2 linked regions of the Homo sapiens genome follow. The protein of the gene in region 1 purifies or fractionates together with the protein of each later gene. This does not show direct contact. Each region holds a gene or a part of one and is shown in the gene's direction. Other genes may lie near its edges.

Evidence for each region.
Region 2: the proteins of BCO1 (region 1) and ABLIM1 purify together in Homo sapiens (affinity purification with mass spectrometry; 2 studies listed by BioGRID and IntAct, with this or other methods). This does not show direct contact.

Annotation. Positions count from the first base shown.
Region 1 is NC_000016.10:81,253,928-81,265,790, forward strand, and holds part of BCO1 (beta,beta-carotene 15,15'-dioxygenase), read left to right. Parts: intron 1-5,748; coding exon 5,749-5,878; intron 5,879-8,208; coding exon 8,209-8,356; intron 8,357-10,712; coding exon 10,713-10,860; intron 10,861-11,863. UniProt on the Homo sapiens protein: Symmetrically cleaves beta-carotene into two molecules of retinal using a dioxygenase mechanism.
Region 2 is NC_000010.11:114,644,932-114,656,794, reverse strand, and holds part of ABLIM1 (actin-binding LIM protein 1), read left to right. Parts: intron 1-200; exon of another isoform or gene 201-300; intron 301-11,863. UniProt on the Homo sapiens protein: May act as scaffold protein. May play a role in the development of the retina. Has been suggested to play a role in axon guidance.

The DNA of each region.
Region 1 (11,863 bases):
CCTTAGCCTGGTGACAGCAAGACCCTGTCTCACAAAGAAAGGAGAAAGAAATATCTCAGTGACACTTATTCACACAGTAACCACCCCTGAAAAGATGTTTGCATAAAGGCTAGATGATTGTCTCTTAGGAACACAAATAACCTCCTGAAGACTGGAGGAGGAACTAGCAGGTCTTTCATGATCTCCCTCAATTTTATTTTATTGTATATTTTTTTCTTTGAGATAGAGTCTCCCTCTGTCACCCAGGCAGGAGTTCAATGGCACAGTCTCAGCTCACTGCAACCTCTGCCTCCTGGGTTCAAGCAATTCTCCTGCCTCAGCCTCCTGAGTAGCTGGGACTATGGGTGCGTGCCACCACGCCCGGCTAATTTTTTTTTTTTTTTTTTTTTTTTTTTGTATTTTTAGTAGAGACAGGGTTTCACCATGTTGACCAGGCTGGTCTCGAACTCCTGACCTCAGACGATCCGCCCATCTTGGCCTCCCAAAGTGCTGGGATTACAGGCATAAGCCACCACACCAAGCATTTTTTTTTTTTTAATAGATAAGGGCTTCCTACATTGCCCAGGCTGATCTCGAACACCTAGCCTCACCTTTTTATGTGCCAGGACAACAAGCCTGAGCCACCACGCCTCCCCTCAATTTTCTTATAATTAGTGTTACTATTATTGTCATTATGTCCATCCAAGTGCACAGGTGGGAGTCATTGCCACTGGAATGTACATTCAAATCCTTTGGCAATGGACATGGAAACACAACCCCAAGGGCAAAACAAGTTGAAACTCTTCAAAGTCAAGATAGCGGTTACCCTGGAGGGGGAAGAGGTTAGTGACAAGGTGGATATATGAGGCTAGCGTTCAGGGGGCTGCTCTGGTCCTGTTTCTCTTTTTGAGGCAGGGTCTTGCTCTGTTGCCCAGGCTGAAGTGCAGTAGTGCGATCTTGGCTCACTGTAGCCTTGACCTCCCAGGCTCAAGTGATCCTCCCGCCTCAGCCTCCTGAACAGCTGGGACTACCATACCCATCTGATTTTTGTATTATTTGTAGAGATGGGGTCTCGCCATGCTGCCCAAGTAGTCTTGAACTCCTGGGCTCAAGCGATCCTCCCCTCTGGGCCTCTCAAACTGCTGGGATTACAGGCATGAGCCATTGCACCTGGCCCCAGGTCCTGTTTCTTGATCAGGATGTAGTTTGCGTGGGTAGCTCCCCTTTGTGAAACCTCAGCAGGCTGGATGTCATCAAGCTGCACATCTCTGTAGGAGTGATTTTAATTGGAAGGTGCAGACAGAACACTCAAACTGATTGTTCTTGCTGTGTTAGGATCTTGGTTAAGAGGGCCAGCTTTAGATGCCCATTGCTGGCCTTCGACTCCAGATTACCACTCGCTAGCTGTGTGGCTTAACACAAGCTGCTTAACCTCTCTGTGCCTCAATTTTATTAGCTGGGAAATAAGTCTGCAGGGCTGTGAGTACCCAAGCCCTTTGTACTTCATTTGGTAAAAAAGTTGGAACCTTTAAGCACTGTTTAGATCTTGCTTTATTTTGCTATTAATTAACAAATGACATTATGTTATTTTTTTTTATTTTTTATTTTTTTGAGATGGAGTCTCGCTCTGTTGCCCAGGCTGGAGTGCAGTGGCGTGATCTCAGCTCACTGCAACCTCTGCCTCCTGGGTTCGAGCGATTCTCCTGCCTCAGCCTCCCAAGTAGCTGGTAGCTGGGACTACAGGTGCCTCCCACCACACCCAGCTAATTTTTGTATTTTTAGTAGAGACAGGGTTTCACCGTATAGGCCAGGCTGGTCTCAAACTCCTGACCTTGTGATCCGCCTGCCTCAGCCTCCCAAAGTGCTGGGATTATAGGAGTGAGCCACCATGCCCAGCCTTTCTTTCTTTCTTTTTATTTATTTATTTATTTATCTTTGACATTGAGTCTCGCTCTGTTGCCCAGGCTGGACTTCAGTGGCACGATTTCGGCTCACTGCAAGCTCCGCCTCCCAGGTTCAAGCAATTGAACCTCCCGAGTAGCTGGGACCACAGGTGCCCAGTACCCCGGCTAATTTTTTTTGTATTTTTAGTAGAGATGGAGTTTCCCCATGTTGGCCAGGCTGGTCTTGAACTCCTGACCTCAAATGATCCACCTGCCTCTACCTCCCAAATTGCTAGGATTACAGGCATGAGGCACTGCGCATGGCCGATTTTTTTTTTTTTCCAGCGAATGCATTTCTGGTTGGAGTATTCTACTTGCTTCCAGTGTTGTGAGTATGAAACCAGATAACACACATCAAGTGCCCAGCACAGTGTTTAGCATGCTGGTGCTCAATCGATGCTGGCTGTTAGTACTAGTTTCCTTTTCCTAAGATATCAAAAGGCACTGGGCGAGAATTTCTTGGAAACATGTTTTCTCCTCTAAGCCCATCCTGTGGCAGTCAACATATGATGGGCGTTTCTGAGGTCAACTTTTTGCTTATTGGAATGCAATGTCACTGTGTCCCAGGCTTGGCTTTTCCGTGTGTTGTAATTGTAGCAACACTGGAAGCACATACTATACCACGAAAATGAAATGCGTTCTGTAAAAGGAAAAAATCTTAATGTCATTTGCGAATTAACAGCAAAATAAAATAAAACACTGCCTCTTTCAGGCCCCTCCCCGAGGTTTCAAACTGCCCAGGAAATAAAGTTCTCAGGGCTGGTGCGGTGGTTCATGCCTGTAATCCCAGCACTTTGGGAGGCCGAGGCAGGCAGTTCACCCGAGCTTAGGAGTTTGAGACCAGCCCGGCCAACAGAGTAAAACCTCGTCTCTACTAAAAATACAAAAATTAGTCGGACATGGTGGCACATGCCTGTAGTCCCAGCTATTTGGGAAGCTGAGGCAGGAGAATCGTTCGAACCTGAGACGTGGAGGTTACAGTGAGCCAAGATCGTACCACTGGACTCCAGCCTGGGCGACAGAGTGACTCCATCTCAAAAAAAGAAAAAAAAAAAGTTATCAGGCCTGCAAACCTAGTAGGACCCCTCAACCCATTTCCCAATTTCATTTCACTCCTGTCCTCCAAATCCCTCTCTAATGTTCCAGCCCAGCCGAACTCAACGCCTGCAAGAAGGGTTCTGCATTTTCCCAACTCCAGGCCTTTGCTTACAGACCTCTTAGCGGGTGAACAGGACAGCTCTGCCCTCTCTCCCCAGCATATTGCAGTCAAATTCTACTCATCCTTTAAGAGCTGTTTCATGCACCACCTCCTCCCTGAAGCTTCTCCTGACTTATTCCCAGCTGGGAAGGACCTCCTCTCACCCCTGCCCCAGGAGGAATCCATGGATGTGGGTTTTTTGTTGTTGTTGCGTTTTTTTGTTTATTTGTTTTTTGAGACGGGGTCTCGCTCTGTCGTCCAGGCTATAGGGCAGTGGCGCGATCTCGGCTCACTGCAGCCTCTGCCTCTTGGGTTCAGGCAATTCTGTCTCCTCAGCCTCCTGAGTAGCTGGGATTACAAGGGTGTGCCACCACACCCAGCTAATTTTTGCATTTTTAGTAGAGATGGGGTTTCACCATGTTGGCCAGGCTGGTCTCAAACTCCTGACCTCAGGTGATCCACCCACTTTGGCCTCCCAAAGTGCTGGGATTACAGGCGTGAGCCACCGCACCTGGCCTAGATGTGTTATTTTACATAGCAAAAGAAACTTCGCAGGCTAGGCAAACGCCTGTAATCCCAGCACTTTGGGAGGCCGAGGCAGGTGGGTCTCCTGTGGTCAGGAGTTCGAGACCAGTCTGACCAACATGGCAAAACCCTGTCTCTACTAAAAATATTTTAAAAATTAGCTGGGCATGGTGGCACATGCCTGTAATACCAGCTACTCGGGGAGGCTGAGGCAGGAGAATCTTTTGAACCAGAGAGGCTGAGCTTGCAGTGAGCCAAGATTCCACCATTGCACTCCAGCCTGGGTGACAGAGTGAGACTCCATCTCAAAAAAAAAAAAAAAAAGAGAGAGACTTTGTAGATGTGATTAGATGAAGGATCTTGAGATGGGGGAGGTGATCTGACATTAGGGATGGGCCCAGTGTAATCTCAAGAGAGAAGCAGGAGCGTCAGCCTCAGAGGAGATGTGATACCGGGACAGGAGACAGGGGTCACAGTGACGCAGCCATGACCAGGGAAGGCAGCAGCTTCTCAAAGCTAGAAAAATCAAGGAACAGACCTCCCCTGGAGCCTCCAAAAGGAACTAGCCCTGTGGACACCTTGATTTTAGCTCTGTAATCCCCATTTCAGACTTTCTTCCAAACTCTGAGATAATGACTGTATGTTGTGTGAAGCCACTAAGTGAGGGGTAAGTCGTTACAGCAGCCGTAGAAAACTAACACGGGTCTAGAACCATCTGGTATATTTTGAGGTTGGTCTCAATGGACTGGTCAAGAGATTTATGCCATGAGTTAGACTCTCTGCAGAATTTGGATGAATTAGACATTGAACACAGGTCTGACCCTCTATTGCTATGCAGGATTGGGCATCAGGTCACCTCCTGGTTGTGTTCAATATCAAACGTTACTCCAGGGAGACTGAAGTGATCAACTGGGCTTCTGGAGGCAGCGCTCCCAGGACTGAACGGGGCCCTGGGGAAAACCACCCCACATATGCAGCCTTCTAGATTAGTCCTCCAGCTCTGCTCCTTCCCTGGAGGGACACAAACAGGGTGGAAGGGATGACTGATTCTGGTCAGCACTCTCAGATGGGTGACCCTGGGCAAGGTGAAAGAATGTTTCTGAGCCTGAGTTCCTTCCTATGGAAAATGGAGCTAAGAACAGACATATTTTGCATTGACATATTTTGCATTATCACATTTTGCATTGCTATAAAGGAATACCCAAGACCGGGTAATTTATAAAGAAAAGAGGTTTATTTGGCTCACGGTTCTGCAGGCTGTACAGGAAGCAAGCCACCAGCATCTGTTTGGTTTCTGGCGAGGGCCTCAAAAAGCTTTGGCTCATGGCAGAAGGCAAAGGGGGAGCAGGCATGTCACATGGTGAAAGAGAGAGAGAGAGAGGAGGGAGGGATCTTTTAAACAACCAGATGTTGCATGAACTAATAGAGTGAGAACTCACTCATCACCAGAACAACACTAAGCCATTCATGAGGGACCCACCCCCATCACCCAGACACCTCCTCCTAGGCCCACCTGCAACATCACAGGCTTCAACATGAGATTTGCAAGGAACAAAACATTCAAACCGTAACACATACTTATCCAGCCATACTGTTGTGAGTCAGGAGTGAGAAAATGTGTGTCTAAAATTATATTCCAGGCCGGGCATGGTGGCTCACGCTTGTAATTTCAGCACTTTGGGAGGCTGAGGCGGGTGGATCACCTGAGGTCAGGAGTTCAAGACTAGCCTGGCCAACGTGGTGAAACCCCATCTCTACTAAAAATACAAAAATTTGCTGGTCGTGGTGGCGCATGCCTATAATCCTAGCCACTCAGGAGGCTGAGTCAGGAGAATCACTTGAACCCAGGAGGCGGAGGTTGCAGTGAGCCGAGATCGCACCATTATATTCCAGCCTGGGCAACAAGAGCAAAACTCAAAAAAATAATAATAATAAATAAAATTATATTTAAAATGCGAATTGTATCGGCCCTGTGTACTAAAGGAGCTTGTCCTAGTGAAATAACCACCTTCTTCTCCCAGTAAAACCCATACAAGGACTGACATTGATTTTAAAGCCCTGTGAAGGCGTCAGCCTGAGATTATGCTGGTTCTTCTCTTGCAGGTGAAGTCTATTACAGGAGCAAATACCTGAGAAGCGATACCTACAACACCAATATTGAGGCAAACAGGATTGTGGTGTCTGAGTTTGGAACAATGGCCTATCCGGACCCCTGCAAAAACATATTTTCCAAGTAACTGCCTATTTTAAATCTGAGCAAATTTCATGCTTTTTGCTATCCTTGATGGCTGAAATAACCAGCATTTGCTCCTCTGACAATTCTCTTTAGGGTAGATGAAAACTCCACATGACTGCCCTTTAACCAGAGGTGCTACACAGTTCTTGATCACTGATTGCCAGAGAGACTAAGAGCATTTGACAAATTATTAGAAGCCCTCCCACATGGCTGGTGGGAAAGCGATTTGGAATCATCTGTCAAAATTATAAATGCGTATTCCCTTCAGCCTAGAGATCTGCTTACTTGCATAGAAAATGACACATGCACCAGGTATTTGTCATTTATGGCTGCATCATTTGTTATAACAAGTAGCTGAAAACAACCCAAATGTTCATTAAAAGAGGACTGGTTAAATCCGTAACAGTAAAACTGTACGAGAAAATGCCATGTAGAAGTAAAAAGGAATGAGGATGTTCTCTTTGCACTCTACAGAAGCTTTTCCAAGATAGACTAAGTGGAAAAAAAAAAAAAAAGGAAGGTGTAGAAAGAGCATGTTATAAGCTGTACTTTGTGTGAAAAAGCAGTAAGAAATCTAAATTAAATTTTGCTTGTACATGCATAAAGAAACTAGGAAAGGATGCACAGGGGCAGATGGATGTTGAGGAGAGGGAGAGATTTTTTGCTGTATATATTTTATTTCATTTCATTTCATTTTATTCATTTATTTATTTATTTAAGATGGAGTTTCACTCTTCTTGTCCAAGCTGGAGTGCAATGGCGCAATCTCAGTTCACCGCAACCTCTGCCCCCCAGGTTCAAGTGATTCTCCTGCCTCAGCCTCCCAAGTAGCTGGGATTACAGGCACCCACCACCACGCCCGGCTAATTTTTATATTTTCAGTAGAGACGGGGTTTCACCATGTTGATCAGGCTGGTCTTGAACTCCTGATCTTAGGTGATCCACCCACCTTGGCATCCCAAAGTGCTAGGATTACAGGCATGAGCCACTGCGCCTGGCCACTGTATACATTTTAAATCATCTGGATTAGTATCCATATGAATGTGTTACATATCTGACAGTTAAATTCTTGGCCAGGGAATCAGGCCTGCCATCAGTATCTTCTTTCTGAAACTCTCTAGATGTAGAAGAGTTATGAAAGAGTTGAAGGGTGGACTGGCCCAGAGATGGAAGATTGCTTCTGCTTTTTTGAGAACTGAAGTCATCTCTCCCATTCCAGTATCCAGCTCTAGGGCTAGCTCAGAGCAAGCACTGAATTCACATTTGCAAATAGGAGGTGTGGAGTAGGAGCCAGTGAGAAAGGAGGAGGAAAGAGCAAAGGAATTTAAAACCACCATACTTACCTGGTAGGGGAGATAGCAGGATCACGAATTTGAAACCACGACCTGGAGGTCCTGGAACCAAGCCTCCTTTTTGTTCCAGTGTTTGCCAGTAGGAGGAGCACTCCCCAATACACCGATACAGGATTTGCCAATTTCATCACCCATAAACCCCTCTGGTTTTTCTTTCTTCTTGCTTTGAGTATACCTTCTGATCAAATGAGCTATGTGTTCTTAACTCATAATTAGTTTGTTTTCCTTTTTAAATTAAAAACTAATTTCCTGGATAAATTCGAGATAACCAGTGTGGACTCACATTCCTGGCAAAGCAGATATCAGCTACGTTGTTAGGCTTTGGGAGCCGTTACGGGTTCATATACGATTTCCGTAGAGCTTCTTGACATACTTTGGAACAGTATGTCTTGCTGGCTCTGATGTTAGAGACCTTTGGGTTTTGGGGAGCCCAGGAGGATCAGCTGGTGACCATGGCATTCCGGCCGACTCATTTCTTAGCTAACTCAACGTGGAGGTGTCTTTGGGGTGTCTGAGTTCTTAGGATTCCTCAGGTGACCCATTGGGACCCAGTTGCTTTTTCTTCCTTAGTTGAAGTAAAGCATTTTTTTTTTTTCTTTGAGACAGAGTCTCGCTCTTTCGCCCAGGCTGGAGTGTAGTGGCGCCATCTCGGTTCACTGCAAGCTCCGCCTCCCGGGTTCACGCCATTCTCCTGCCTCAGCCTCCCGAGTAGCTGGGACTACAGGCGCCTGCCACCACGCCCGGCTGATTTTTTGTATTTTTTAGTACAGACGGGGTTTCACCGTGTTGGCCAGGATGGTCTCAATCTCCTGACCTCGTGATCCACCTGCCTCGGCCTCCCACAGTGCTGGGATTACAGGCACCCGGCCGAAGTAAAGCATTTTTAAGTGGTAGGAAAACTAAAGCCATCAAGGATAGACTTCTCTGGCTGGGTGGACATAGCCACTGACTCTGTTGATTTGCTTTTCTCCCCAGAGCTTTCTCCTACTTGTCTCACACCATCCCCGATTTCACCGACAACTGCCTGATCAACATCATGAAGTGCGGAGAAGACTTCTACGCGACCTCAGAGACCAATTACATCAGGAAAATCAACCCACAGACTCTGGAAACCCTGGAGAAGGTATCAACACATATGTAACCAGCATCACTTCCTGACTCAAGAAAGGGAGAGTCGGCGACGGCCGGGGTGAGGTTGCTCAGCCTGCAAGCAGCTTACCAGGGGAGCCCCTCCTCTAACACCGTTGGATCCCGTGCCCTAGCGCCACACTTACTGCTAGATGCTAGGCAGGGACTGTGTTGTTTTTATCTTCGTGTCTGTATCAGTTTCCTGGGGCTGATGTAACCAAGTCCTACAAAAAAGATTGCTTTAAACAACAGAAATTGGCTGGGTGTGGTGACCTACACCTGTAATTCCAGCACTTTGGGAGGTCAAGGTGGGCAGATCACCTGAGGTCAGGAGTTTGAGACCAGCCTGGCCAACATGGTGAAACCCCATCTCTACCAAAAATACAAAAATTAGCCAGGCGTGGTGGCATGTGCCTGTAATCCCAGCTACTCTGAGGCTGAGGCAGGAGAATCGCTTGAACTCAGGAGGGGGAGGTTGCAGTGAGCCCAGATTGCACCACTGCACTCCAGCCTGCATGACAGAGTGAGACTCTGTCTCAAACAAAAACAAAAAAAAAAAAAAAAAAAACAAGACAAACAAATAAAAAAACAGAAATTTACTCTCTCACAGTTCTGGAGGTTAAAAGTCTGAAACCAAGGTGTCAGCCCGGCCATGCTCTCTCTGAAGACTCTAGAGGAGGGTCCTCCCTGGCCCCTTCCTGGCTTCTAGCGGTTGCCGGCAACCCCTGGTGTTCCTCAGCTTGTAGATGCATCCCTCCAGCCTCTGCCTCAGTCTTCACACTGCCTCTCCTTATGGGGCTATGTGTCCAAATGTTCTGCCTTTTTTTTTTTTTTTTTTTTGAAAAAGTGTCTTGCTCTGTCGCCCAGACTGGAGTGCAGTGGTGCGATCTCAGCTCACTGCAACCTCCGCCTCCTGGGTTCAAGCGATTCTTCTGCCTCAGCCTCCTGAGTAGCTGGGACTACAGGCACGTGCCACCACACTTCACTAATTTTTTGTATTTTTGGTACAGATGGGGTTTCACCGTGTTAGCCAGGCTGGTCTTGATCTCCTGACCTCATGATTGGCCCTCATGATTACAGGCGTGAGCCATTGCACCCAACCATGTTCTGCCTTTTATAGAGACACAAGTCATTGCATTAGGGCCCACCCCAGTGCAGTATGACCTCATCTTAACTTAATGACATCTATAAAGACCTTATTTCCAAGTAAGGTCACATTCACAGGTACCCAAGGTGAGGACTTCAACCTATCTTTTTTGCAAGACACAATTCAACCCATAACTCTGTTCATAATTCTTGGCACTGAGGGAGTTCACTGAGAATTTGAATGAATGACTGTTGAAATGCCTGCGATTCTCAGCAATCCTACCTTCTATTGACCTGAAGAGGGAGGCATTAGGCAAAAAGCTAGGGCACAAAAATCAGTGCCCAAGCACATACCTTTCCTGGGAAGAATCAAGTCAACATTTTGGTGGGAATCAATAGACCCACTTTCAATTTTCTCCAGCTGGCTGTTCAAAATTCCGATGTCTCTGCAATACGTTTTAACGATCTGTTAAAGAGATGAGGCTTTTCTTAGCTGTGAAATTATGTCCAGCTCCTTTTAAGCTAGACGGCATCGGTCCAACTGATGATGCTTTCCACAGGGCTACAGAGAGGAAATGCTGGAAGAGAAAGGAGTTATCTGACTCTGGGCTGGAGGTTGTGTTTTTCTAGGGGAGGAAGCGCAGACGGTTGGTCTGCGGCCACTCCATCATTCTGCAGCTGTGGACTGCAGAGTGAGGGTCATTATTCAGCTCGTTGATCAAACTTCACTTTGACCAAATGTTTTTGTAACCTCTCCATTCCCAGAATAATCGTCTAAGAGAGGCCTAGAGATTTATGCTTCTGTGCAATGCAAAAGGGCAGAATTTAAGCCAGAATGACAGAACTGTGGCCAAGATTAGCTCGAAGGCTACCTCTCTGCCCAGGTCATTGCTCAGAGCTTTCTGCAGTGAGGAATCTTGTTTCCATGTTGAGGATTCCAGCAAGGTCAGGCAACAGGATTGGAACGATAGCCACAGAAGCACACCAGCTCCCTAACTCCCCTGCAACCTATTAGCTGTCTGAGTCCCTCAAATCCCCATGTGAGGTTGTATAAGGTCACAAGAGTGAAAGTCTTCTTTAAAAGCAAATTCTGTATCGTTTTCAGATCAACAGAGTGCAAAAATATCCCTCATCTCTCTGAACCTAGAATCAGTCACGTTTTCATAGGACTTCAACCTTTCTCCTTTGAAAAACCAGATGATGTCATATCTTGCAGGTTGATTATCGTAAATACTTTAAAAAACAGGAGGTGTCATATCTTGCAGGTTGATTATCGTAAATACGTGGCGGTAAATCTGGCAACGTCACATCCCCATTATGATGAGGCTGGAAATGTTCTAAACATGGGCACATCCATTGTGGAAAAGGGGAAGACAAAGTATGTGATTTTTAAGATCCCTGCCACAGTACCAGGTAGGCCACTCTGGGGAATTGAATAAAACACAAACAACCAAGTGTGGCTTCTTCTGAAGAGTTCTGTTTTTCGTTGATGACACAAGATCCAGTGTGGTACTTTCTCCCGTAGATTATTGAGGTGGACCATGAAGTCAGTACTTTCCTTTAGAAGAGAAGAGGAGATGCTGGGATTCCTCTTGGAAGAAAGAAATCCCTTTACTATTCTAATTTCCTTTTATTTAGGCTCCAGTTTATTATTTTATTAATTTATCTACCCATCTACCATCCATCCATCCATCATCTATTTACCATCCAACCATTCCTTCATCTACCATCCATCCATTCATGCATCTACTCACCGTCCATCTATCCACCATTCATTCAGCTACTCACTATCCATCCACCCACCTACCCACCATTCATCCACCTATCCATCACCCATCCACCATCCGTCCACCCATCCACCTATCCACCCCTTATCTAGCCAGCCACTCACCATCCATCCATTCATCCATTCACCCACCTACCCATCCACCCACACACCATCCCTCCATCCATCCATCTACCCACTATCCATCTACCCACCCATCCACCCATCCACCCACCATGAATCCATTCAACCATCTACCCATTCTCCCATCCATCCACCCATCCACCATCCATCCATTCATCCATCCACCCACCACCCATCCACCATCTATCTACCCACCCACCCGCCCACCCATCATGAATCCATTTATCCATCTACCCATTCTCCCATCCATCAACCCATTCACTTACCCACCATCCATCCATCCATTGAGCTTCCCACCCACCCATCCATCCATCATTCATCCATCCATCCACCCACCCATCCACCATCCATCCATTCATCCATCCACCCACACACCATCTACCCATCCATCCGTCCACCCACCATCCATCCACCATCCATCTACCTACCCATCCACCCACCCACCATGAATCCATTCATCCATCTACATGTTCTGCCATCCATCCACTCATCCACTTATCCACCATC
Region 2 (11,863 bases), on another chromosome or scaffold:
TTTTCAGGGTTTACCCATGTTGTAGCACGTGTCAGTACTTTATTCCTTGTTATGGCCAAATACTATTTCACCGTATAGATATTCCACAATTTGTTTCTGCTTACACCAGCTGATGGACATTTGGGATGTTTCCAACTTTTGGATTTTATGAATAATGCCTCTATGCATATCCATATACAAGGTTTTTTTTTCTTTTTTCGTGTCAGATGGGTAATGTGCCAATGTCATAACAAGGTTCGAGGGTGGCTCACCTCACACACGCGTGTGTGAACACATCAAAAGGATCATCATATACAGGTTTTTATGTGGACATATGATATGTTCAGGGCTCTTGGGTGTATACCTAGGTGTGGAATTTCTGGGTCATATAATAACTATGTCTAACCTTCTGAAGGACTTCTAGATTATTTCACAAAGCAGTTACTCCATTTTACATTCCCACCAGCAGCATATTAAGGTCCCAGTTTCTCCACATCCTTGCTAACACTTGCTATTATCTGCCTTTTTTTTTTTTTTTTTTTTTTTGAGACGGAGTTTTGCTTTGTTGCCCAGGCTAGAGTGTAATGGCGTGATCTCGGCTCACTGCAACCTCTGCCTCCTGAGTTCAAATGATTCTCCTGCCTCAGCCTCCCAAGTAGTTTGGATTACCGGCATGTGCCACCACACCTGGCTAATTTTGTATTTTTAGTAGAGATGGGGTTTCACCATGTTGGCCAGGCTGGTCTGGAACTCCTGACCTCAGGTGACCTGCCTGCCTCCACCTCCCAAAGTGGTGGGATTATAGGCATGAGCCACCGCGCCCGGCCTTATCTGACTTTTTTATTCTAGCCATCCTAGTGGGTGTGAAGCGGTATCTCACTGTGCCTATACAGAGCTTTGGCTGGGACAGAGAGGGCTGACAAGCAGATCAGTGCTCAGGCAAGACAGGATACCGACTTCGACAGCTGCTGATGGTAACAGCTCCTTGTCTCTTACTCTTAACAGTCTTCTCTTCATGATTCCAGGCACATTCCTTTTTAGGGGAGCAGGGAGCGGGGATGAAGAAGCCATGCCTTCTGCCCAGTCCCCTTACAAGCTCTGCTAAGAAGACTTTGTTCAGAACCAGCTGAGTATGCCTATTGTAGCAAATGACACCTCCCTCAAAAATCAGATCCACATACTAGGGGATACCTAGAATCCCTTTATTGAGGAAAAAATGTTTTATTCCACAAATAGGAATAAAAATGAAACATGTAGATTTCTGCTGGAGCTAACACTTTATTCTGAATGACTTCGATGCTTCTATGGAATGTTTCTACTCAAACAGACTCAAATCAGATATTTTTGGAATGAGCCACTGTTGCTCTTGAAAGAGATAAGATCTGTTGGGAGGAGAAGGCAGGAAGGCAAGGGGAAGCCAGGTAAGCTGTAGTTTAATGAAAGCATGCTGGATAATGACTTATCAGCAGATTCCCTCACTTGGGAACAAGAGAATTAACAGTATCCGAGAGAGTTCTGGATACAGGAAAGGTAATCATCATTGGGATATCCATATCTTAGTGGAGGCAGATAAGGAAATCTGGGAGATTAGTTAAGTGTGGCTTTGAGGTTGGACATTCCAGAATTTGACTCCCAGCTCTTCTACTCACTAAATGTGTTACTTTGGGAAGTTAGTGATTCCAAGTGCGTTTCTCTGTCCCTAAGGTAGGCAGGGAATGCATACCTTATAGGATTGCTTTGAGCAGGCCTATCCCTAGAGTAGATGGGGCCCTGGGCAGATTTTTTTTGTAGGGCTCCTGTCTATATAAACAATTTGAGTCACCCAAAGCAGTGTGTCAACAGCTCAATCTGTTTCAGTCTTGGGAAAGAAATGCCACACCAGCCTGAGGAAGTGATTGCTTGCTAGGCTTGTCCCCTAGAATGGAGCCAGCTCCAGGGCCCCAAGAAACCCATTGGCATGACTCCTGGGGCTCCTTGGGGCATCTGGCCAACCCCTTGCACAGTATGGGAGAGATGCAGAGGATCACTAGAGAGATCTGTGAAGAGGAGGCTCAGATTCCCCATCCAGACAGCACTGCTGGCCCCAGCGATCCCAGGTACCAGAGCGCACTTAGACATTTTTGAGGAAGGAATGGGGTTAGGGCAGGGGCCCTGCTTGCGTGTGTCTAAGGGCAGTATTGATTATGAGAACTAAATGAGAACCTGGCTGGGCATGGTGGTGTGGGCCTATAGTACCAGCTACTTGAGAGGCTGAGGCAGGAGGATCACTTGGGCCTAGGAGTTCAAGACCAGCCTGGGCAAACTTGCAAGACCCTATCTCAATTTTAAAAATTGTAAAAAAAGATAAAAATAAATTTAAAGAATGAGAACGTGCATATCAAAGTGTTTGGTATAGTGGCACACAAAAGCATCCACTAAATGTTAATTTCAGTAATAATAATAGAATTGCAATATAGTCAGCATTAGTCATTTTTGACAGTCTCTATGGAGGCTGAATTAAAATAATAAAATAAGAAAAAATTGTTTATTATTGTTAAAAATAATTTCTATTGTTTGCCTTCCATGCTGTGAAACAATAGAGGCCCAGAACTATAGATGCTGCACAGGACGTGGGATTCCCAGAAAGCCACTGTGTGTTCAGAGCATCCTGTTTAGGACAGGTGCTTGGAGGAAGTGCGCCCTCCTGCAGCCATGCATGTTCCTGTGCTACGAAGCCCCAGAGTGTTCAGGAGCAGCTCCTGGCAGGGTGCTTGGGAATATTTGGCAAAGGCCTCCTCCAGCTGCCAGAAAGATCTCACGATGCTGCAGCTTCCTGTTATTGTCTGGTGCTCAATCCCTGCTTTGAGTTGTGCTGGACTCCATGATTTTCCAAGTGTCCCCATGCATATGTGTCCTTTGTAAAGCTCAAAACAACCCTTGGATGTTGCAAGGGAAGAAATTGTTTTCCCCCACTTAACAACAGCAATGAGTTAGCAAGAAGATGGGAAAAGTGGGCAAAACAAATATATCAGTGAACATACAAAATAGCTTCCGCAAAAATATATCAGTGGGCATATATCAGTGAAATAGATCTGTGAATATACAAAATAGCTTCTGCAAAAATATATCAGTGAGCATATATCAATGAAATAGATCAGTAAACGTACGAAACAGCCTCTGCAGCTTCTGACTGTAGATGTAGTACTGTTCTTGAAGAACGGCTGTCATTCATTGAGGGCCTACTATATCTCAAACATTGTGATAAGTGTCTTTTTTTGTTTGGTTTTGTTTCTGAGACAGGGCCTCCCTCTGTCTCTGAGGCTGGAGTGCAGTGGTGAGAACAGGGCTCACTTCAGCCTTCACCTCTTGAGCTCAAGTGATCTTCTTGCCTCAGCCTCCCATGTAGCTGGAACCACAGGCGCATGCTACCAGGCCTGGCTAATTCTTTGATTTTTTTTTTAGAGACAGGGTCTCACTTTGTTGCCCAGGCTGGTTTAAAACTCCTGACCTCCAACAGTCCTCCTGCTTTGGCTTCCCAAAGTGTTGAGATTACAGGCGCAAGCCACCATACCTCGCCTGTGCCAAGTGTTTCATGATTTTTCCATGTTTGATATTCTCAATGACTCAACAAAGCAGGAATTACTTTTATCTCATTTTACAGAGAAGGAAACTGGGGCATATGCAGTTAAGAGACCTGCCAAAGGTCACATAAGTACTAGATTTGGGCTTAGGTCTGCCTGACACCCAGGTTCGTGGTCTCAACCATGATGTCACTCTGCCTCAGCCTGAGGAGCATAAGAGTGGGTCATTCATGAGGTACGCTGAACACTGGCACACCTAAAGTTTGTAAATAATATTGCTAATTACGTACTTCAGCAACTCAAATTTGAAGACTCCCATAAAGTATATTGCTGTTGCCAGGAAAATTAGCAAAGATTTCCTTCCTCTAGCTCGTAAATACAAGCTGTCTGTATGGAATGTTCCCTTACTCTCCTGTAGGAAATTAGAGTGAAGTTTTTGAACCTGTGTTTCTTTCTGTCCTTTGGAGCTTTTGGGTCTCATACAAACGAAAGAACATATTTAGGGCGATTACCTTCTTGACAAACAAACAAGAGACTGGCACTATTATCAAAAGCCCCAAGGATATCTGGAGAGGATTCAGTGATTATGTTGTCAGCTGAGTCCAAATCCCAAAGCAGAATGTTCTGGACTGGAGAGCAGGGACCAAAGTAGACTTGGCAGTCCCCTCCCTGGAAAAGCAGTTCATATCCCAGAAGAGAGAAAGGTGGTTCATGTCTGATTCAGGCACCTGCTGAGACCTTTCTGTTACATGCAGCACACCAGGTGTTGTCTTCACTCGGAATGGTTTCCCAAGACCCAGATACTCAGGGTATCACGTAAGTGAGAGAACCTCTTGGGTACATTATTGTTTCTTAAAGCAATACCAACCTGTTTTCAAACTAAGTAGAACATATAACACTATAATATTTTTCTTTTAGTGTGCCCTTCTTACCCCATTCACTAATCCGCAACCCCAGACCTGTATGTCAGAGGGCTAGGGGAAGCGTCTTGGGTATAGTAGGCCATAGGCCACAAATGGCTTTGTTGTCAAAAAGACAGCATATTCTTCAAGATGCTGTGGAGCTTTTCTATAGCATCTTCCTGGTAACATTGAGAGTCTGTGTCAGGGAAAAGGTTTTAATTCTCTCCAAACCCTGAAACTCAGCTGTGAAGGCCCTCTATTACATTTGAGAGAAGTGTTTGAGCTAGCCATAAAAAATACATCCTGGGAAAGTTGGTAAGAAGGACCAGCATGTGGTTCCTGCCCTCAGACCCGCTCTCCTGACTGATGGCTTTGACTAGGCTACTTTGAGAGGCAAAGTAGTGACCGGCATCTGCTGCTGGCAAGGAGACACACTGTGTTGTGGCCTCCTGTTCCTCCAGCATGCTGGGTCCCCAGGGCCTCATCCGGTTTGTTGATGGGATATGGTTCCCCCCAAACAGCAGTCTTACTTTAACTTTTGTTCTCCTGAGGATGGAGATGATAGGTGGTGGCCAGTTACTTCTACATCTTGCAAGGGCATGAATGGAGAGGGATTTGAGGTTTCAGCTATTTGGGAAAGCATTAGATAGTTTGCATTTTTTTTTTATTTATAGTTACCAATAACCCCTTTTCAATTCCCTAGGCTTCTCATTCCATTAGTTTAATCATATTTCCCAGAATCATACGTTTCAAGCTCTTGACGGTTAAGCCTTTCTATCACGTCCCACTCTTAACCCCCAAACACCCGCATCAGTCTTCTTTGTCACAGATGTTTGAAGGATGCTTTCACGTTGGGCCTCTCTTTGTATGTGCAATTCTGCTGCCTGGCACAGTCTCCCCAGTTTCTCTGAGGCCCAGCAGGCTGCAGGTTAAGCTTTTCCTCCTCTGGGCCGGCCTGATCTTACCTCTTGCCTCGTCCTCCTCTGTGTTTTCATAGCATCCTCTGCACATCTTTGTTCAAGTTGCCTGTTTATAAGCTTCTCCCTTTTCATACACTGAGGTCCTCTCTGAGGGCAAGGAGAGAGCTGTGCTCTTATTTTTATTCCATTATAGTACCTGGCATGGAAAAAAAGCTGTGAGTGATGAGTAAATGAATGAGTGAATGTTCGCAGAAATCAAATCACTATGTTCGAAGAATACAATTCGGCATTAAATTGTCCCCCTGCCTTCAAGTAGCTGAGGCCAGGAGAAGCTGCAAAGCAAACTGGTTGCAAATTCAGGGTTATGGGGTCAGACCTCGCTGCCAAGTTCAAAGTCCAGCTCTGCTCTTTGCAGTTCTGTGACCTGGGCAAGTGACTTAATATGTCCGAGCCTTAGTTTTCTCGTATATAAAATGTGGATAATACTACCCACATTGCAGCGGTATTATGAGCCCTAAGAGAAAATACGTATTTTAGAAATGCTGGCATTTAGTTGGAGCTCGATAAATACTTCCCCCTCTTCTTCTCACCCAAATGTGTGAGAAGTTGAATAATTGTCTAGATAACAAATACAATTAGTTTTCAAAGGAAAGAAATATCACTGAAGGGAAAGAGAAAGTAGGATTTGCGATTTGAGCTGTAAAATAGATATGATTTACCCAAAATACGAGTAAAAGGAAAATAGCCCAATGATCTGAGAGTGGAAAGAAAAAGGTAGAAGTAAGACACTTTTCACCTAGTTCCACTGGCTGAATCTACTTGGTCCAGCTTTTTTTTTGTTTTATTGATGGTTGCTTTTTGTTTTGTTTATTTTATTTTTAGTCCTAGGAATGTGGGCAAGTAACTATTTTCACATGAAATGTTCCCATGTAAATTACTTCCTTGAGTGAGTAAATATGCTGCAATGCCCCATTCGTTTTAATTAAATGTACTTAAAAACTAATCTTATTTAAAGTCAGAGGGTAAAGCAGTCTGTTTAAGTTTATTGTTTGGCATTGTTTTAATCCAGGCTTTAAACAAATTTGAATCTTACTAAGAGTGGCTTACTTTCAAAGAAATCCCTGATTTCCCATCCTTTGATCCTAATGATTCTGGGGCATGACCCAGTGCTGATTATTATGGATGGACTCCTGTTAACTTGGCAAATCAGCCATGGACCTGTGACGGCCATGGGTACAAGACAAAGCTGCTAACAGAAAGGGAATATGGATTGTGTGGAGGCTGGGCACAGTGGCTCACGCCTGTAATCCCAGCACTTTGGGAGGCCGAGATGGGTGAATCACGAGGTCAGGAGGTCGAGACCAGCCTGGCCAACATAGTGAAACCCCGTCTCTACTAAAAAATACAAAAATTAGCCTGGCATGGTGGTGGGCGCCTGTAGTCCCAGCTACTCAGGAGGCTGAGGCTGGGAAATTGCTTGAACCTGGGAGGCAGAGGTTGCAGTGAGCCGAGATAGCACTACTGCACTCCAGCCTGGACAACAAAGTGAGACTTTGTCTCAAAAAAAAAAAGAAAAAAAAGAGGGGGGATATGGATTGTGTGTTACTCATTGGGGTGGACAGGTGGCCAGCACAGGCTTGATTTGTCTATGGACTACAAGACGAAGGCTACCAGTAGGAAGGTAATATAAGGTGAATACGTGGTCAGCAGATGGGTGATTCTGTCCCTGGGGTGGAAGATGAAGGCTGCCAACAGGAAGGAAGCATAGTCTGTGTGCTGTTTGTTAGGGCGTGTAGAGGTAGCCAGCAGGAAGATTCCTTTCTCAATCTCAGAAAGCAGCACACCCAGAATACACTAGAGAAACCCTTTGCAGAATCAGGATTTAAGTATGTCAGGATTTTAGATAGACTATGATATGATATGCACGAGGATTCTAGATATTTCTCAAAGGTAGAAATAAACCTTTGATATCAACACCTTTATTTATTTATTTATTTATTTATTTATTTATTTATTTATTTATTTATTTATTTTGACAGAGTCTTGCTCTGTCACCCAGGCTGGAGCACACTGGTGTGATCTTGGCTCACTGCAGCCTCTGCCTCCCGGGTTCCAGCGATTCTCTGTGCCTCCGCCTTCTGGGTGGCTAGGATTACAGGCATGCACCACCATGCCTGGCTAATATTTTTGTATTTTTAGTAGAGATGGGGTTTCACCATGTTGGCCAAAGCTGGTCTTGAACTCCTGACCTCAAATGACCTGCCCGCCTCGGCCTCCCAAAGCACTGGGGTTATAGGTGTGAGCCACCGTGCCCAGCCAACACCTTACTTTTGTAGGAAGTAAGAGACTGAGGTCCAGAGAAGTAAATGACTTTCCTAAGGTCTATGGTATAATCAGAGGGTAGTGTTAGATTAAGACCCTAGCTCTCCTCTCTCCCTGTTTGATATTACATGAGAAGACCAAAGGATTATTAATTTTTTTTTTTAAGTTCAGTTGGAGATTCAGCTCGGGTGAAACTTTCCTGTGGAGTCTCTCCAGACCTCTCCTCTTTTGGGCTCTGCTGTGTACCACACAAATGCCCATCCAAGCACCTCTATGCTTGGCTATTTGTATCTGTTTGTTTGCGTGTCTCCCTACCAGGTAGTAAGTGCCTTAGTGGCAGGACAGTTGTTTCCGTGGTTTCTTCAGACTATAACGCAGTGCTTGGTAAGTAAAGGTACTTCATACATTTTAAAATGGAGATGTAATGTAGTACACCATAACATTCACCACTTTAACATTTACGAGCCTGTGCATTTTAGTAGAACCACGAAGTTGTGCAACCATCCCACTATCTAATTCCAGAGCATTTTTATCAGCCCAGAAAGAAACCTTGTGCCCGTTAGAAAACATCCCTGATGACTCACATTCCTCAGCTGCTGGCAACGACTTATCTCCTTTAGGTGTTTGTGGGTTTTCCTATTCCAGACATTTCATCTGATTGGAATCATGTAACCTGTGATTTTTGTGTCTAGCTTCTTTTACTTAGTATAATGTTTTTAAGGCTCATCGAGGCGGTAGCATTTATCAATACCGTATTCCTTCTTATGGCTGAATAGTATCCCATTGTAGGGATATATCACATTTTCTTTATCTTTTCGTCAGCCGATGGTCATTTGTGTTGTTCCTGCTTTCTGGCTATTATGAATAATGCTGCTATGAACACTTGTTACATGTTTTTGTGTGAACGTGTTTTCAGTCCCCTTGGGTATATACCGAGGAGTGGAAATCCTGGGTCATACGATAATTCTCTGTTTAACTTTTTGAGAAACTGTCAAACCGTTTTCTACAGTGGCTATACCATTTTACATTCCCACCACTTAATACAATTTCAAATTAAATTAAAGCTATTCCCTCAAAGTGAAATAACCAGTTTTCCCATATGTACACAAATCCTATATGTACATTCTATTTACATCCTATATCTTAATCTTCAAAACTGCTTTTATCTTTACAACATAAAGGTCTGCAAACATTATATAAAGAAAGGTAGGGCCTTTACTTTGAGAAATCATTTAGCTGGCTTGTAAATTCACTTTCTGTAAGTGACTTACTGTGGCCCCCCAAGTTTTGTTTGTTTGCTGTTTAGAAGTCTTTCCTCATCCAAGTTCTGTGGCCATAGATAACAACCAAAATTAATCAGAGGACATCAGAGACATTATGACTCACAGAGCCCAGAAAAATCTAGCTCACAAAGGTTTGTCTGCAGCCCAAGTGGAGAGGGAGAATTCTCATGCCATAGAGTAGGATCTCCTGGGATAAAGATGAGCTGGGGAAGAAAAGTCAAATAGCTAGGGCCACAGCTAGCGCTCAGCCAGCTCCCTTTCTGTCCATCATGACCTGGATCATTTTGTAAGGTCATTTTTGACATCACTAGAATATTCTGGGGTGTTTAATATTTGCTGTCCTTGTGGGACAATTCCCAGTTCTGTTTCATATTGGTCTTTTCCCTGAAGTGCTATCATGTGATTCTAGTGTGTAGCTGGATATGTTCTGTTATCCTTTCCTTGGGCTCTTTTCCCTAAAGGGCACAGACTCTATCTTCACTTGGTAGCCAGTGGCATTATAGGGGCAGTGGCTACTTAATAACTGCCTAGGCTGGGCACGGTGGCTCACGCCTGTAATCTCAGTACTTTGGGAGGCCGAGGCAGGCGGATCACCTGAGGTCAGCAGTTCAAGACCAGTCTGGCCCAACATGGTGAAACCCTGTCCCTGCTAAAAATACAAAAAAATGAGCTGGGCATGGTGGTACACACCTGTAATCCCAACTACTTGGGAGGCTGAGGCACAATAATTGCTTGAACCCAGGAGGCAGGGGTTGCAGTGAGCCAAGATCGTGCCACTGCACTCCAGCCTGGGTGACAGAGTGAGACCCTGTCTCAAAAATAAATAAATAAATATTAATTAATTTATTAATTAATTTAAAAAACTGTCTAATCTTTGAGGTCACCAATTGGTCCAGTGCTATCCATGATGGGAATACTAAGTGAAGTTAATTGTTTAGTAATACTTCAACTGAACTTGATTTCACATAGATCGTGGTTCAATTGGTCTATTTTAAGAGTTTAAAGAAGATGCAAACAGGATCCAACACATTTCCTGGTTAACTTCTATATCTACATACCAAGAGTGATCCAGTTCATTTTTCTATATGTGGCAGCAGCTGCTGAAAAGATGTTGAGCCCAGCCAACCTCCTGTAACTCCTCCTGTAGTCGTGAGGACCACATTAGACTTGAAGCTCACCTTATCTCTCTTGCTGAGCGGCAAGCATTCCTTCCTTTGAATCTTCATACCGTTTGGTCGGTATCTCTGATTCCAATCCCTTTCTGCCTTGTTTTAGAGTTATTTAGGTCCTTGTGCTGTTTGGTCTACTTAGATGTAAGGTTGTTGAGGGCTTAGTTTAGGTATCTTTGATCTCTATACCACTTGTGGCTCCTTGAAGGTGATACTTCGCATATTGCAGATGCTCAGTAAATATTGTTAGCCTCATTAATGGGTCAACATTCATTTGTTTCTCTTCATTTTTTCCTTTGATTTTTGCCCACCTAGTTCTCAATTGTGGATGCTATGGCTGAATGCTCATCTTGTGGCTTAGTTGCTTTTTTTCCTGTGTGCAAATTTAATGGCCAATGAAGCATATTGGTAAATGCTCAGTGCTCTTAGTATACGTTATTCAGGAAGAGGAAATATTGTGTAATCCAGATCCAAAACCAAGAAGAATTTAAGTTCTAAATATTTTCCTTCCTGTCCACCCTCTAATCTCCTCCAAATCCCAACAAATACAATACATATGCGGAGTGTTTTCATCTTGCTAGAGATAGTGAGAGAAAGGAAAGGAAGAGACCTACCTTCTGTATCTCTTTCGAATGTACAGCCAACTTGGCATATGGCATGTAGTACTAGCACAATCTTTGGTTGAATTGTAGCAATATGCAGCTGTTTAAAATGGTAAAAAGAGAGCCCATGTAATATATGTGTAAATGTTATAAAATGACTCATTTTTATAGAGCTTGGTAAATGTCATAAGTCACATCCTTCTGCCTAAAACATAAACACAGGCCAAAAGGACATTTTGGGGGCATATTTATTTATGAGGCAGTTGGTAGTTCTGACCTCTGCTACCAGAGTTAATCTAAGTTGTCTCCTTTACATATTTTAAAGGAAGAAGTACTTTGGCGTAGTCTGTGTGCATACAAGTTCCTTTGTGTTTGTATAATAAGGTGATCCAATTAATGATTGATTTTCTTGAGAAAAAAATATATTCTGTCTGATGAACATGCTTGGTCTTTTCAGGACATTGTTCTATTTAGAATCTGTCTCTGTTATCTTTAGATGAAAGTGATCAGTGACTCAAGACAAAATTTTTTTTAGCATAAAAATATGGATCTTAGATTCTCTTTTGTTTAGAACTCCCTGCCAAAAAAAAAAGAGACTCTGCGAGGAAAACTTAAAAGCAAGTAATTTATTTGGAAGGTGATCCTAGGAATCACTGGTAGAGGAGTGAGGCTAATAAAAGGTGCAATATCAAGCCAGTTACCAGTGTGGGCAGCAATTCTCAATCCATTGGGAAGTCTAAGAGGTAGTGTGGGATGTGCTGCAGAGATATCCCAGCCAAGGGGTGAGGAAGCTGGGGTATTTATCTACCACCTCCCCATCACCATTGTTTGATAGCTGCTTTCAGGTACATTAACTCACGCATTTTGATGCTTCTAGTAATCACATCTGACTTGTAGAGGCGAGTGCCACGGAGGTATGGGTAGGGCGCTGACAGATTCCATTGCAAATGATCCCAACTGAGATATTATTTTGGTAAACATTCCCTCTCCATTCTAATGGAGGATCTTTTGTTTCTGAAGAACAGAAATCCACTTATACTTTTCAATAACCCAATCAAAATAGGTAGAGAGATGGGGGATAGGAACCCAGGAAATGCTGGACAGCCAGGCCTCAGGAAGTACAGAA